Homo sapiens: one gene and its partners. The protein of the gene in region 2 binds, or shares a complex with, the protein of the main gene of each other region. Each region holds a gene or a part of one and is shown on either strand. Other genes may lie near its edges.

Evidence for each region. Proteins that work in one complex are often made in the same cells at the same time.
Region 1: USP39 (region 2) and PRPF8 share a complex: the UniProt entries of both Homo sapiens proteins name them as parts of the U4/U6-U5 tri-snRNP complex.
Region 3: USP39 (region 2) and LSM4 share a complex: the UniProt entries of both Homo sapiens proteins name them as parts of the U4/U6-U5 tri-snRNP complex.
Region 4: USP39 (region 2) and LSM8 share a complex: the UniProt entries of both Homo sapiens proteins name them as parts of the U4/U6-U5 tri-snRNP complex.

What each region holds. Positions count from the first base shown.
Region 1 is NC_000017.11:1,678,368-1,681,867, reverse strand, and holds part of PRPF8 (pre-mRNA-processing-splicing factor 8), read left to right. Parts: coding exon 1-48; intron 49-177; coding exon 178-390; intron 391-813; coding exon 814-939; intron 940-1,036; coding exon 1,037-1,142; intron 1,143-2,068; coding exon 2,069-2,259; intron 2,260-2,457; coding exon 2,458-2,577; intron 2,578-2,661; coding exon 2,662-2,851; intron 2,852-2,986; coding exon 2,987-3,106; intron 3,107-3,215; coding exon 3,216-3,350; intron 3,351-3,500. UniProt on the Homo sapiens protein: Plays a role in pre-mRNA splicing as core component of precatalytic, catalytic and postcatalytic spliceosomal complexes, both of the predominant U2-type spliceosome and the minor U12-type spliceosome.
Region 2 is NC_000002.12:85,640,186-85,643,685, reverse strand, and holds part of USP39 (ubiquitin carboxyl-terminal hydrolase 39), read right to left. Parts: intron 2,711-3,500; coding exon 2,568-2,710; intron 1-2,567.
Region 3 is NC_000019.10:18,309,577-18,313,076, reverse strand, and holds part of LSM4 (U6 snRNA-associated Sm-like protein LSm4), read left to right. Parts: intron 1-374; coding exon 375-473; intron 474-3,215; coding exon 3,216-3,399; intron 3,400-3,500. UniProt on the Homo sapiens protein: Plays a role in pre-mRNA splicing as component of the U4/U6-U5 tri-snRNP complex that is involved in spliceosome assembly, and as component of the precatalytic spliceosome (spliceosome B complex).
Region 4 is NC_000007.14:118,187,164-118,190,663, forward strand, and holds part of LSM8 (LSM8 homolog, U6 small nuclear RNA associated), read left to right. Parts: intron 1-1,114; coding exon 1,115-1,242; intron 1,243-3,500. UniProt on the Homo sapiens protein: Plays a role in pre-mRNA splicing as component of the U4/U6-U5 tri-snRNP complex that is involved in spliceosome assembly, and as component of the precatalytic spliceosome (spliceosome B complex).

The sequences.
Region 1 (3,500 bases), on a different chromosome or scaffold from region 2:
TGTGTTGGACTGGTTCTATGACCACCAGCCGTTGAGGGACAGCAGGAAGTGAGTGATAGATGGAGATACTACACCTGGGAGGAGTTCTGGAAATGCAGAAGGAGTCCTGGGAGATCAGTAGGTGGTATGGGTTTGTCTAGCTGCTTACTTGAGGTGGGCCTTTCATTTTTTACCTAGGTATGTAAATGGCTCCACTTACCAGCGCTGGCAGTTCACACTACCTATGATGTCGACTCTCTACCGCCTGGCTAATCAGCTCCTGACAGACTTGGTGGATGACAACTACTTCTACCTGTTTGATTTGAAGGCCTTCTTTACGTCCAAGGCACTCAATATGGCCATTCCTGGAGGCCCCAAATTTGAACCTCTTGTTCGAGACATCAACCTACAGTGAGTTGGAGAGATTAGGGATTTTAGACATTTTGAGTTGAATGAAACGTAATCTTGATCCTTAAAGTCCTGATATAACTTCCAAATTAGTCTGTTTACACCAGGTGCAGTGGCTCACGCTGTAATCTCAGCACTTTGGGAAGCTGAGGCAGGAGGATTGCTTGAGCCCAGAAGTTTGAGACCAATCTGGGCAAAATGGCAAAACCCTATCTTTACCAAAAAATGTAGCTGGGCGTGGTGACACTCACAGCTTCGTGTAGTCTCAGTTACTTGGGAAGCTGAGCTGTGGGAGGATTGTTTGAGCCCAGGAGGTCACGGCTGCAGTGAACGATGATCATGCCATTGCATTCCAGCTTGGGTGATAAGAGTGAGACCCTGTCTCAAAAAAAAAAAAGTCTGCTTATTCTTGATGTTGTACCCTAGGGATGAAGACTGGAATGAATTCAATGATATTAACAAGATTATCATCCGGCAGCCTATCCGCACTGAGTACAAGATTGCTTTTCCTTACTTGTACAACAATCTTCCACACCATGTCCACCTCACCTGGTAAGAGACCTGGAACACAACATTTGGAAAGGAGAAGGCTGCTGTTTAGGTTGGGCCAGGGCGGGAAAACTTTGGCTGACTCTTCCTTTCATTTTAGGTACCATACTCCCAATGTTGTATTCATCAAAACTGAGGATCCTGACTTGCCAGCTTTCTACTTTGACCCTTTGATCAACCCAATCTCCCATAGGCACTCAGTCAAGGTGAGGAAGGGAAGGGATGCTTTCCCTCAGCTCTTCTAGGAGAAATGCGTGAGGTTGGCTGATGTTACTAAACGCTCAGGTGGAGGGAGATGTGTTTTCCGTCTTGCTAAGTGTTCCCCTTGAGCTATAAGCGAATATGAGAATTCAGCATTTGCTTTAAAACATGTCATTGGTATAATCCTGTTTTCTGTGATTATCCTTTTGGACTTTACGGTTCTTTTCTTGGGTGCTCTAGATAATCTGTCCCGGTCTGTCTCTATTGTGTTTGTTTGTTTTAGCCTTTATATTGAGATGTAGTTAACATACCATACAAGTTATCCATTTAAAGTGTGTAATTTGATGGTTTTTAGCTTATTCTCAGAGTTGTCCCAACTGTCACGACATGCAATTTGAGAATATTTTTATTACTTGAGAAAGAAACCCTTAGCAGTTACTCGCCATTTCTCCCCAACTTCCTTACGCAACCACTAATCTACTTTCTGTCTATAGATTTGGCTATTCTACACATTTCATATGATAGAATGAAATAGAATCGTACACTATGTAGTCTTCAGTGACTGGCTTCTTAAGCTTACCATAATGTTTTTGATGCTCATCTGTGTTCCGTTGTGTCCAAGCCCAGTGTTTGGAGCTTGGGTGGGAGATGATTGCAATGTTGACCTCCTGTGATGTTGGGGCTCCATTGGGAGGCTTTCTGGTGGTCAGCCAGTTGAGGTGTGAGAAGTGACGCTTGCTTTCCTGGTGGCCCTGTCTTGTTCTTTGCTGTCTTGGTTTCCTTTGTGCTGGCACTTCAGGGCTGCTTTTGTCAGACAGCCCAGTTTCCATAGCAGATACAGGCTTTGTGCTTGGCCCCAGAGAATTTCCCTCATCTTAAGTCTGTGCCTAGTTCAGCAGGAGCTAAACCCTTAGAGGGATTCCTTTTTCAGAGCCAGGAACCATTGCCGGATGATGATGAGGAATTTGAGCTCCCGGAGTTTGTGGAGCCCTTCCTGAAGGACACACCCCTCTATACAGACAATACAGCCAATGGCATTGCCCTGCTCTGGGCCCCGCGGCCCTTCAACCTACGCTCTGGTCGCACCCGTCGGGCCCTGGACATACCCCTTGTCAAGAACTGGTAAGGTTTTTCCCTGTGGCAGGGGGAATGATAGTGGATGTGTAGGAGAAAAGACTCCAACTAGGTGGGCATGTAGCCTTTTTTTTAAATTCTTTTTTTTTTTTTCCCATAAAAATGGTAGACAACCCAAGGCTTGCAGCCTTTAGCAGAGTGTCTGGAAGAAGAGATGGCCAAACTCTGGTGGGCTTATTTTTCCAGGTATCGGGAGCATTGTCCTGCCGGGCAGCCTGTGAAAGTGAGGGTCTCCTACCAGAAGCTGCTTAAGTACTATGTGCTGAATGCCCTGAAGCATCGGCCCCCTAAGGCTCAAAAGAAGAGGTAAGGTGCCCCAGGGGCCCTGCGCAGACTTCTGTTCCAGAGATATCAGTAGGCTGACTCTTACTCTCCATGTTCCCACCTCAGGTATTTGTTCCGCTCCTTCAAAGCCACCAAATTCTTTCAGTCCACAAAGCTGGACTGGGTGGAGGTTGGGCTCCAGGTTTGCCGCCAGGGCTACAACATGCTCAACCTTCTCATTCACCGCAAAAACCTCAACTACCTGCACCTGGACTACAACTTCAACCTCAAGCCTGTGAAAACGCTCACCACCAAGGTGCCTGCATTGGACCCTAGGGGCCTCCTGGGCTTCAAGGACGGACAGTTGTTTTCCTCTGGTTACTGATGAAGGCATACATCAGTTGGGTCCATTGCTCATTCACGTTCTGTCTGTTTTTTGCATCTTCTCCAGGAAAGAAAGAAATCTCGTTTTGGGAATGCTTTCCACCTGTGTCGGGAAGTTCTGCGTTTGACTAAGCTGGTGGTGGATAGTCACGTGCAGTATCGGCTGGGCAATGTGGATGCCTTCCAGGTAAGGTTAGGTATTCCCAACCCCTGCCTGGGTGAGGACGCTGGAGGAAGCCTGTGCTGACCGTGGAGCTGGTTTAAGCTCCAGGTCTGATGGGGCAATTGTATTGCAGCTGGCAGATGGATTGCAGTATATATTTGCCCATGTTGGGCAGTTGACGGGCATGTATCGATACAAATACAAGCTGATGCGACAGATTCGCATGTGCAAGGACCTGAAGCATCTCATCTATTATCGTTTCAACACGGTGAGACCTTGACTTTACTGACTTTCTTTTTTTTGAGACAGAGTCTTACTCTTGTCTCTTGGGCTGGTGTGCAATGGCACGATCTTGGCTCACTGCAACCTCCGCCTCCTGAGTTCAAGCAATTCTCCTGCCTCAGCCTCCCGAGTAGCT
Region 2 (3,500 bases):
ACAGAGCGAGACTCCATCTCCAAAAAAAAAAAAAAAAGGAGATATGAGTCCTGAGTCCATGTGAGCTCTAGTCAGCCAACCTGCCTTCCTGCTACTAAAGGCTGACTTCTCATTTTATTTTCTCTTCAGCCTGAACAAAAGCTGACTAGACTTGTCTGAATGAGTATCAGTGAAGAAGTCTTTTTTTTTTTTGAGACAGAGTCTCGCTCTGTCGCCCAGACTGGAGTGCAATGGCGCTAGCTATCTCAATTCACTGCAAGCTCTGCTTCCTGGGTTCACGCCATTCTCCTGTCTCAGCCTCCCGAGTAGCTGGGACTACAGGCGCCCACCACCATGCCTGGCTAATTTTTTGAATTTTTAGTAGAGACGGGGTTTCACCGTGTTAGCCAGGATGGTCTCGATCTCCTGACCTCGTGATCCGCCCGCCTTGGCCTCCCAAAGGGCTGGGATTACAGGTGTGAGCCACCGTGCCTGGTTTGGAGAAGTCTTTATACTCAAGATTTCATGACTGAACCAAAACTGTCCATGCGGCAAAAGAGAAATACTACGTTTAATCATTTTGTGTTAGTAAATAGGAAAAGGAGCAAACTATTCATTTTTTTTTTTTTTTTAGTAGAGACAAGGTCTTGCTATGTTGTCCAGGCAGGTCTCAAACTCCTGAGCTCAAGCAATTCTCCCACCTCGGCCTCCCAAAGTGATGACATTACAGATGTGAGCCACTGCGCCCAGCCTAAAAGAGCAAACTATACTCATCTCCCAACCACAGCAACAGACCAGTTAAGAGAATGGCTAATTACCTGAAAGTGAAACTTTAAACCTGCCCTCAAAAATCTCTATCTCCAAATAAGCAGAGGGTGCCTAATCACCATAAGTCTGATAACTCTCCGACAAAAACAGGATGTGTTATGAATAAAACATAGGAGAAGACAGGTATGAAAAAGATCCTTTTCAAGAAGTATGGACAATGAAATGATCCAGAATTGTATTACTCGAAGTAATTACAGCACATAAAATAATTAAAGTGCAAGTTTCCAGAATTAGTCACAATTTGATGTTCTCTAAAAGACTGCGTAGTTAAGAAACAATCTTTTTCTCAACTTCTCCGAAGTAAGCTTTCTGAAGGACAAACTTTTATATTGGGCCTACTCTAGGCCCATAAAAGAAACCAATGGGGCAAGGAAATTTCTGTGGCAACTGAGCAGGAAGTACCATTGATACACAATCTTCCTCCCTCTGGAGTTGCCCTTGGAATCCAGACTGCCCCTACCTACCAGGAACAGACAGGTGACTGGCAATTCACAAGAGGCTAGTGCTGAAATAAAACTTTGACACACAGACTTTCGAAGAAAGCACCTCTGTCATCCTACTCAAGGAGGCAGAGAACAAACCTCCATGTCCCCCCATTTAATTCTAGTCACAAACAAGATGCTAGTGGAGAAAAGTGTAGAAAAAGAGAAAAAGAAATTCCCCTGTAATTCTCAACTGCAAATGTTCTCTCTCCTCACCCTCCATGATTCTAAGAGTCCTGGCAATACTATAATAAGATGTTACACCTGGACAAACCCCTAGGGCTCAGGCCCATCTACTCCAAGCCTCTCATTTTATCTATGAGAGAACATATCCAGAAAACACGCAAACTATGGGTCTGAGGTCCCACCACTAAGACAGCCTAAAACTCAGGCCTCTTAATTTTAGATACTACTTTCTTAAACACTACATGGAATTTAAAACTGACACTATTTTCTTTCTTTCTTTCTTTTTTTTTTTTTTTTTTTTTTAGCACAGTCACACTCTGTCACCCAGACCCAGGCTGGAGGGCAGTGACACCATCTCAGCTCACTGCAGCCTCAATCTCCAAGGTTCTAGCCATCCTCCTGCCTCAGCCCCTCAAGTACCTAGGACTGCAGGTGTGCACCACCACATCTGGCTAATTTTTTGTATTTTTTTGTAGAGATGGGGTTTTGCCATGTTGCCTAGGCTGGTCTTGAACTCCTGAGCTCAAGCGATCCAGCTGCCTTGGCCTCCCAAAGTGCTGGGATTACAGGCGTGAGCCACCACGCCCAGCCAAACATCTTCTTAAGTATGAAAAACCTTGTCTCTTGAGAACTGAAAACCAACAGTCTACCCCCAAAAAGGATCTTGCAGAAGTTTTCTGAGTTGGAAGGAAGCAAACTAAAAGCATCTAGTACAACTCTAGTGTGCAAAAAGGTGTGATGGCCAGCAAATAGATGGGCAGACCCTCACTACTCAGGACATCTTCCAAACCAGGCAGAATCCTACCTGTCTTATCCTACTTGCATCATTTCTTCTTCTCTACGCAGGAAGACTATAATTTCCAGCTAGCAACAGGAGAGAAGATAAAATAGGGATTGCATCCCAATAAACATCAATCTTTTGTGGTCCCTGAAATAAGTGTATCCTTCCAATAAAAACTCTTATCTACTGTAGGTAGGCTCTGTTCCTTGTAATCCCCAACTAAGACAGTCCAAAATTAATACTGGTAAAAATACAAGAGAAGAAATCCAGGTTCACTCCCCGTGAGAGAAGTGAGGCAGGATGTTACTTACGTAATAGGGAAATTGACAATAGTTGGATTCTTCTCAACAAAGAAGTTGTTCTTAGTGAATCTCTTGATACAAAAGATTAGATATGGAGGCAACTTGGTAAGCTGGAAGCGCTTCAGAAAGTTCTCCTTGTAAGTCTTATATTCCTAGAGAAAGAAAAGAAAATTCTCAAATTAGTGCTGAAGTTCAGTAGTATTAGAGCAGGGGCATGAGTTTTTCATTTCGATTTTTTAAAATATAATTTTGCCTCACACTTAAGTTCACAAGACTCCTGGTCCGAGAAATTATGTATGAGGCTTAGGATGTGCAGTTTGGCTAAGGCTGATTTAAAAAAAAAAAAAAAAAAAAAGGCCGGGCCTGGTGGCTCACACCTATAATCCTATCACTGTAGGAGGCCGAGGCAGGGGGATCATTTCAGCACAGGAGTTCGAGACCAGCCTTGACAACATGGTGAAACCCCATCTCTACTAAAAAGGAAAAAGAAAAAAAAAGAAAAAAAAAATATATATATATATATGTAAAGAAAGAAAACTAACCAGGCACGGTGGCTCATGCCTGTAATCCCAACACTTTGAGAGGCTGAGGCAGGCAGATCACTTGAGGCCAGGAGATCGAGACCAGCCTGGCCAACAGGGTGAAACCGCATCTCTACTAAAAATACAAACATTAGCTGGGCATGGTGGCATGTACCTGTAGTCCCAGCTACTCGGGAGGCTGAGGCAGAAGAATCGCTTGAACCCGGGAGGTGGAGGTTGCAGTGAGCTGAGATCACACCACTGCACTCCAGCCTAGGCAACAGAGTGAGACTCCATCTCAAAAAAAAAAAAAAAGTATGTCTCCCCACTTTTTGGAGTTTCTCCTCTCCTAAATGACCTTCCTTTCTCTATACTACCCCAGAGGCAGGCAGAAAGCTGAAAACAGGATATATGAGAAGTA
Region 3 (3,500 bases), on a different chromosome or scaffold from region 2:
CAGCTAATTTTTATGATTTTAGTAGAGATGGGGTTTCACCATGTTGGTCAGGATGGTCTCAATCTTTTGACCTCGTGATCTGCCTGCCTCGGCCTCCCAAAGTGCTGGGATTACAGGCGTGAGCCACCGCGCCCGGCCCAGTATCATTTTTTAATTGCACAAAGGTTGGCGTCATGATAGACTGTCTAACTGCCAGCGAAGTGTCTAGCGGAGGCAGAGCCTGTCGCCTGTAAGGAAGGCCATTTAGGGGTCTGGGAACTGTGGGCTGAGGCCCGGAGGTGGTGGTCCATCTCAGGGCAGAGCTACACCTCCTGAGGGGCCCATGGCGCAGGGCTCCAGGGCTACAGCCAACCTCTAGCCTGTCTCTCTTCTAGTTGGTGGAGCTGAAAAATGGGGAGACGTACAATGGACACCTGGTGAGCTGCGACAACTGGATGAACATTAACCTGCGAGAAGTCATCTGCACGTCCAGGGTGGGTGCTGCACCCACCAACGGGGGTGGGATGCAGGGGGTGCACACTCAGCCTCCTCCCTCCCTCCCTGGGCCTCATGGGAGGAGTCAGTGGGGGAGGCCGCCTAGGACTGCTCGTCCTTCCAGGGGTCAGTCAGGAGGGACAGGGCAGGGTGAGCTAGGCCACCAAGTCTCCCAGTGTGCCCTGGACTTTGACCCTGTGGGAGACTTTCCTGCTGTGTGTCTGTTGGTGCCACCCCTGACCTGGAAGGACCTAGGACTGGGGACTCCCTGTGGCTCAGGCTGGGGCAGCCCCCTCCAGGGGAGGCCCAAGACTCCCGGACTCTGCTGCCTTTAGTCCAGCCTGGATGTTGCCTGCACTCTGCGGGCCATGGTAGTGTGGCCCTGGGATGTCCGGGATGCCCAGGTCACGGTGGGCAGGAGCAGCGCCAGGGCCCGGTGGGTCAGGAGCCACCAGCCAGAGCCCAAGACCGGAAGTGCCTGGCTAGGAGTGCTGCTGGGTCGGCCGGGGCTGGAAGATGGTTCCCCTGGTGTCACGGGCCTTCCCTGCCCCTGGGATGACCCACAGAGCACTGAGGAGGAGGCCAGGGATGGTGCTGAAGGCAGCGGCTCCCTTGGACTCCTCCCACCAACCTTCCCTGACCCCATCTGTCTTGTCTCCCTGTGGGTGACAGCCCCCCATGGTATAGGGAGGAAACTGCTGGGGAGCTTGGAGTGCCTGCCTGGGGTCACCTTGACAGGACAACAGGGCTCGAGGGGGGAGGCGCTTCTTCCTGAAGTGGCCGTATCTTGCCCTGACCGCCACCCCCACCCGGGACTGGGCCTCTCATCAGCACAGGGCTGGGCGGGGTGGGGACAGGTGGTGAGGCTGCTGTGCAGCAGCGCTAGAAGCTCTAGAAACTGCTTGCTGGGTTTCGTGCCATAGCCTGTCGGAGGGCGTCTGGGTGGGTCCAGTCTGGCTGTGTCGGATGGTGCCTTGGTGCAGAACCGCGTGCCTCCCATCTGCGGCCAGCGGGGCTCTGTCCACTTCCGGTATTGGAATCACCAGGCGTGTTGCGTGCGTGAGCATGTGCGGTCTTGTGGACACCTCCAGGTCCTAGACATGAGAAGCCTGTTGATTCAGAGGCTGCGTGGTCTCCAGGGGTTGGTTTGGCCTCTGCCTCCAGCTTCGAGTGGACGGATGGCTTTCCCTGAGCAGCCTGCCTCTGTGGCCAGGCGGTGATGCTGCCGTCACATGTGGCTGGGAGGAGAGGCGATGGGAACTCACATCGTCCCCATCTAAGTGGGGCCCTCCCTCCCTCAGAGGCAGGCCGCAGGATGCAGAGACCCCGGGCTGAGAGACCTCTGGAGCGCTGTGGGCAGGAGGCAGGGGCCTCCCTGCAGTGAGCTCAGGCCCTGCCCAGGTTCCTGCACGAGGAAGCCTCTGGGCCCTGCCTGGGAGAGCTGGGCGCCAAGTCACCTGCCCAGGCCCTGAGTCCCCACAGAACCATGGTGTGTCCGCCCCACGAGCCCTCGAGGGGTTCCTGGGAGAGTGAGCACCCAAAGGGGCTGTTCCTCCCCGCCCAGCGCTAGGCCAGGCCACACCTACCCAGGTGTGGAGGAGAGTGTCTGACAGGAGGACTTGGGGATTCGGGCAGGTAAGGCCTTTTGGGGTCAAAGTTAGCCAGATGAGAAGTGGGAAAACCACGTGCAAAGTTCTGGGGGCAAGCCCATGGCGTGTGTTCCGGAAACAGAAAGTTCCATCTGGAGGGAGTGTCGTCGGGCTGGGAGAGGACCGCCAGGGCGGGGCAGGATCTCGGGCCCTAGAGAGCCCTGCTGAGGTTCTTAGACCTTGCCCCCAGGCTGGAGGGGGCCCTGGGTGGGTTCCAAGCTGGAACATACTGTGATCTGACTTTAAAGGGCATCGGGGGCAAAGGCCATCCAGGCGTCGTGCGTGGGTCTGTCCAGGAACCTGGGCGGTGGGGCGGGGCTGGGAAACTGATATGGTAGGAATGGCCCTGGCCCCTGCTAATCCCTCGATCTGTCCCAGTGGGGGCCTCGGAGGCATTGCAGCATGAGTCTGTGTCTTTGCAAGGCCCCCATTTCTCCAGTCTTGGTTAGCTCTCCTAAAACTGGCATCGCTGGGAGCCGCCCTTGAGCCACCCTGGCAGGACCCAAGTCCCCCCATTTCCCGCCCCTCTTCACCCACCACACTAGGCCTGTAGCTTGCTCGCATGTCCCTGCACCCAGCGCAGGCCCTGTCAGGAGATACTTAGATGAATGAATGAGTCAGGGCATGTAGAGAGGCTTCCAGAAGTGAGGTGGGGCTGGGGCAGGAGGAGGAGTAGCTGGGCTTCGGCTGTGTCTGGTGCACAGGGAGGCCCCCACCCGCTCTGGGCTTTGGGCTGCAGGTGAAGAACCCCAACCAGAGAGAGCCCCATCCCAGGCTGGAGGGAGCCCCAGTCAGCCACTCCTGAGCCAGGCCCACGGGCAGAGGATAGGAGCCAGTCTTCCTTGTGAGTGCACAATGGGGGCTGCGCCTACCACACCCACCCTTGCTCCTGGGTGAAGGATTGCCTGGGGTCAGGACAGATCCTGCCTGCAGGGTGGACCCTTTGCCACGTATGTCCCGGGACTGATACTGTGCAGCTTGCAGGGGTGGTACGGGGTGCAGGCTGGGCAGGATCTGCAGGGCCTCCCGCGCTCCCAGGGCTGGGCCAGACGGCCCGGTGGTAAGTTAATAACCTGCTCCCCTTCTCCGCAGGACGGGGACAAGTTCTGGCGGATGCCCGAGTGCTACATCCGCGGCAGCACCATCAAGTACCTGCGCATCCCCGACGAGATCATCGACATGGTCAAGGAGGAGGTGGTGGCCAAGGGCCGCGGCCGCGGAGGCCTGCAGCAGCAGAAGCAGCAGAAAGGCCGCGGCATGGGCGGCGCTGGCCGAGGTGGGTCTCCCCTCTCCAGTGGACGTACCTGGGGCGGGAAGACAGCCACACGTGGCATCCCTCCTTCTTGGGGTTGCCCTTGCAGCGCTGCCTCGGAGCCT
Region 4 (3,500 bases), on a different chromosome or scaffold from region 2:
AGTTACAGATTTCATTCTCATTTTATTTCATTCTCTTTTTTATTTCATTCTCATTTTATATATTTTGACTTTCAGAAGATAAAACAGTTTAAGAACTTGAGAGGTTTAACCATCAAAACCAATGTTAGTTGATATTTCTTCAGAAACTTGAATACCATGTGAGTTACTCTGTTATGCTAGACCCATGTCTTCTTTTATTCAATACTAAGCTTTCATAAAACTCTCCCTGATTATTTCCTTCAAGTTCTGGTTTTAATTAGTATAGTCACATTTGTATCTACCTTACTGGGAGAATTAAACAATAAATCCATATGATACACATTAAACAATACATGTGAGACACACAGAACACTGGTAACTAGTATGTACTCATTAGGTGTTACATGTAACTACTAGTTAAATTTTTAGTATATTTATGGGACTGATTTGAATCTGAAAAATGGCAAATTATATTTACTTGTGTATAATAGTATAGAATGTTATGGTTTAGTGGTCTGGCTCAGGAGCTAGCCTTTTGTGGTTCATCTCCTGGCTCTGCCACTTACTACCCATGTGATCATAAGACACACCATTCTGTGCCTCAGTTTCTTCTTTGAAATGGGGCTAATTATAGTACTAAATCAAAGGGTAGAGATGAGTTGAGAAAATGTGTACAGTGTGTTTAGCACACTGCCTAGTGCTGGCATATAGCATATAGTGATACTATTACATTGCTGTAGTTGGTATGTATGGTTCTTCCTTATTTATGTATATTTGGCTATCATTTTCCCTTAAATATCCTTTGTCTTAGTTTATACCTTTAGCTGCTGGTCTACATAAGCTTTTATGCTACTTACTTGGAGATAGTCACATTAGTACATAGGTGTCCTTTGCAACTGCTGTCAACTCTACATATGAGTGAGATGTGTGGTGCAGGTCCCCCCACCCCAGCCAAATAACCAAGAGGTAAATTGTGTACCCTCGAATACTGTTGGTTATAAAAAAGGCATTTTATTTGCCGTCGTATAGGTACTTGTATTGGAATACCTGGCAACTAAAATGACTGTGAGGTTAAATTTACACTTTCAGGTAAACCAGAATATTTCTCTTTTTCTCCTGAATATTTTCTTTACAGGGAACACTGAAAGGTTTTGACCAGACCATTAATTTGATTTTGGATGAAAGCCATGAACGAGTATTCAGCTCTTCACAGGGGGTAGAACAAGTGGTACTAGGATTATACATTGTAAGAGGTGACAACGTGTAAGTAAAATATATCTGTTAAAATTATAAATGATACTGCCTTACTTTATGGAGAAGAGGCTTTCCCCAAAATACCCTACTGTATTGTCCATACATAGTTAATAGAATCTTGCATTCATTTCTTTCGTAAATATACCTTTTCTTATGTTTGTGTAAAATAAGGCATATGTATACATTTTATGTCAGCACTTCTTTAGGTTTCAACCAAAGCTGTCTCTCTACAAATTAAACTTTTACCTGAGATTTGCCCATTTTTCTACTAGTTAAGTAGCCTGGGTAGAGTCCAGAAAGGGCTCTGCCTTATATTAAATACTTCATTAGAGAGACTTCTTAAAACGTTCTTTCAAATACCCAGAATTTTAGAGGAACATATTTCTAGAGTCCAAGGCCAAAGTTTGAAAAATGTTTTGAAATCTCTGATTTGAACAATATTAATTCATGCTCAATAACATAGGTGTATTTATAAATAAGTACTTACTCGTTATTCATTTTCTTTTAATTTTTTAGTATCATTGACACACTTAAGATGTCCCTGTGGCCTCAGTTTACTTGGGACAGACAGATATAAAAGTTCAAGAGTAATTGGCCAGGCATGGTGCCTGTAATCCCAGCACTTTGGGAGTCTGAGGCAAGTGGATCAGGTCAGGAGTTCAAGACCGGCCTCGCCAACATGGCAAAACACTGTCTCTACTAAAAATACAAAAATTAGCCAGGCTTGGTGGCGTGCGCCTGTAGTTCCAGCTACTTGGGAGGCTGAGGTGGGAGAATCACTTGAACCCAGGAGGTAGAGGTTGCAGTGAGCCGAGATCACCCTACTGCACTCCAGCCTGGGTGACAGATTGAGACACCAATTCAAAAAAAAAAAGGCCGGGCACAGTGGTTCAAGCATGTAATCCCAGCACTTTGGGAGGTGGAGGCGGGTGGATCACTTGAGGTCAGGAGTTCGAGACCAACTTGGCCAATGTGGTGAAACCGCGTCTTTACTAAAAATATAAAAATTAGCCAGGCGTGGTGGCGCAAGCCTGTAATCCCAGCTACTCGGGAGGCTGAGTCAGGAGAATTCGCCTGGGAGGTGGAAGTTGCAGTGAGCCGAGATCGCAGCACTGCATTCCAGCCTGGGCAACAAGAGCAAAACTCCGTGTCAAAAAATAAAAAAGAAAAGTGGCTAATGTGGTTCACGTGCCGTGGCTCATGCCTATAATCTCAGCACTTTGAGAGGCCAAGGTGGGTGGATCACCTGAGCCCAGGAGTTCAAGACCAGCCTGGCCAGCATAGTGAAACCCCGTCTCTCCTTAAAATAGAAAAATTAGCCTGGTGTGGTGGTGCATGCCTGTAATCCCAGCTACTTGGGAGGCTGAGGCAGAAGAATTTCTTGAACCTGGTAGATGGAGGTTGCAGTGAGCCAAGGTTGCGCCTTTGCACTCCAGCCTGGGCAAAAAGAGTGAAACTCCATCTTGAAAAAAAAAAGAAAAGTGGCTGATGTGACAGAGGAACTGAATTTTAAATTTTATTTAATTGTAATTAATTTTAATAGTTACATGTGGCCAGTATTAGTATAGTTATAGAGGCTAGAAGAATGCCAAATCAGTTTTCTAGTGAGTACTACACTGAATCAAAATATAGTTGGAAAGAAGCAAAAGATACATTAGCAATTTTAAGCTAGAACATTTAACAAATTCTAGGGGACTAACTGTCCCCTGGAATAACTTAAAAAGTGCAGGAATAATTTACTCATTTAAGTTGTTTATGTTAGCATCACCTTTAGATGAATAAATAATTTGATCTGTAATCAAAAATCAAGAGTTTATAAAATATTTTAGAGATGACTTTTAGGTGGAGTTACAAGGTGAGCTGTAAGTAATGAGAGAGAGACAGAGCAGATAGGGCCCAGGTCTCTGGATCAGAACAACACTGTTTATATTGGAGCTGTGCATAGTAATTGATTTTAAGGTTTCTCCTACTTAAAACAATTTTTTTTTCTTGAACTTCAGTGAAAAAAGTCTTGTGCTAGAGCCAGCTTCTACTGGCCCATGAAAGCATATTGTTATATTTTAAGGAATTTTACAAGCTGGTTAATTGATGTCTTGTTAGTAGCTTGAAATTGGCCGTGGTGGGAGTGTTTGCACAATGGATATTAGTAAATGCAGCAAATCAGTCTCCCGCTTTTTTTCCAGAGAGCTGGTTTTTAAAAATGTATCAGCATTTCCCTGCTTACCATAGGGATTTTAAATGATACTGAATATTATCATTTAAAATTT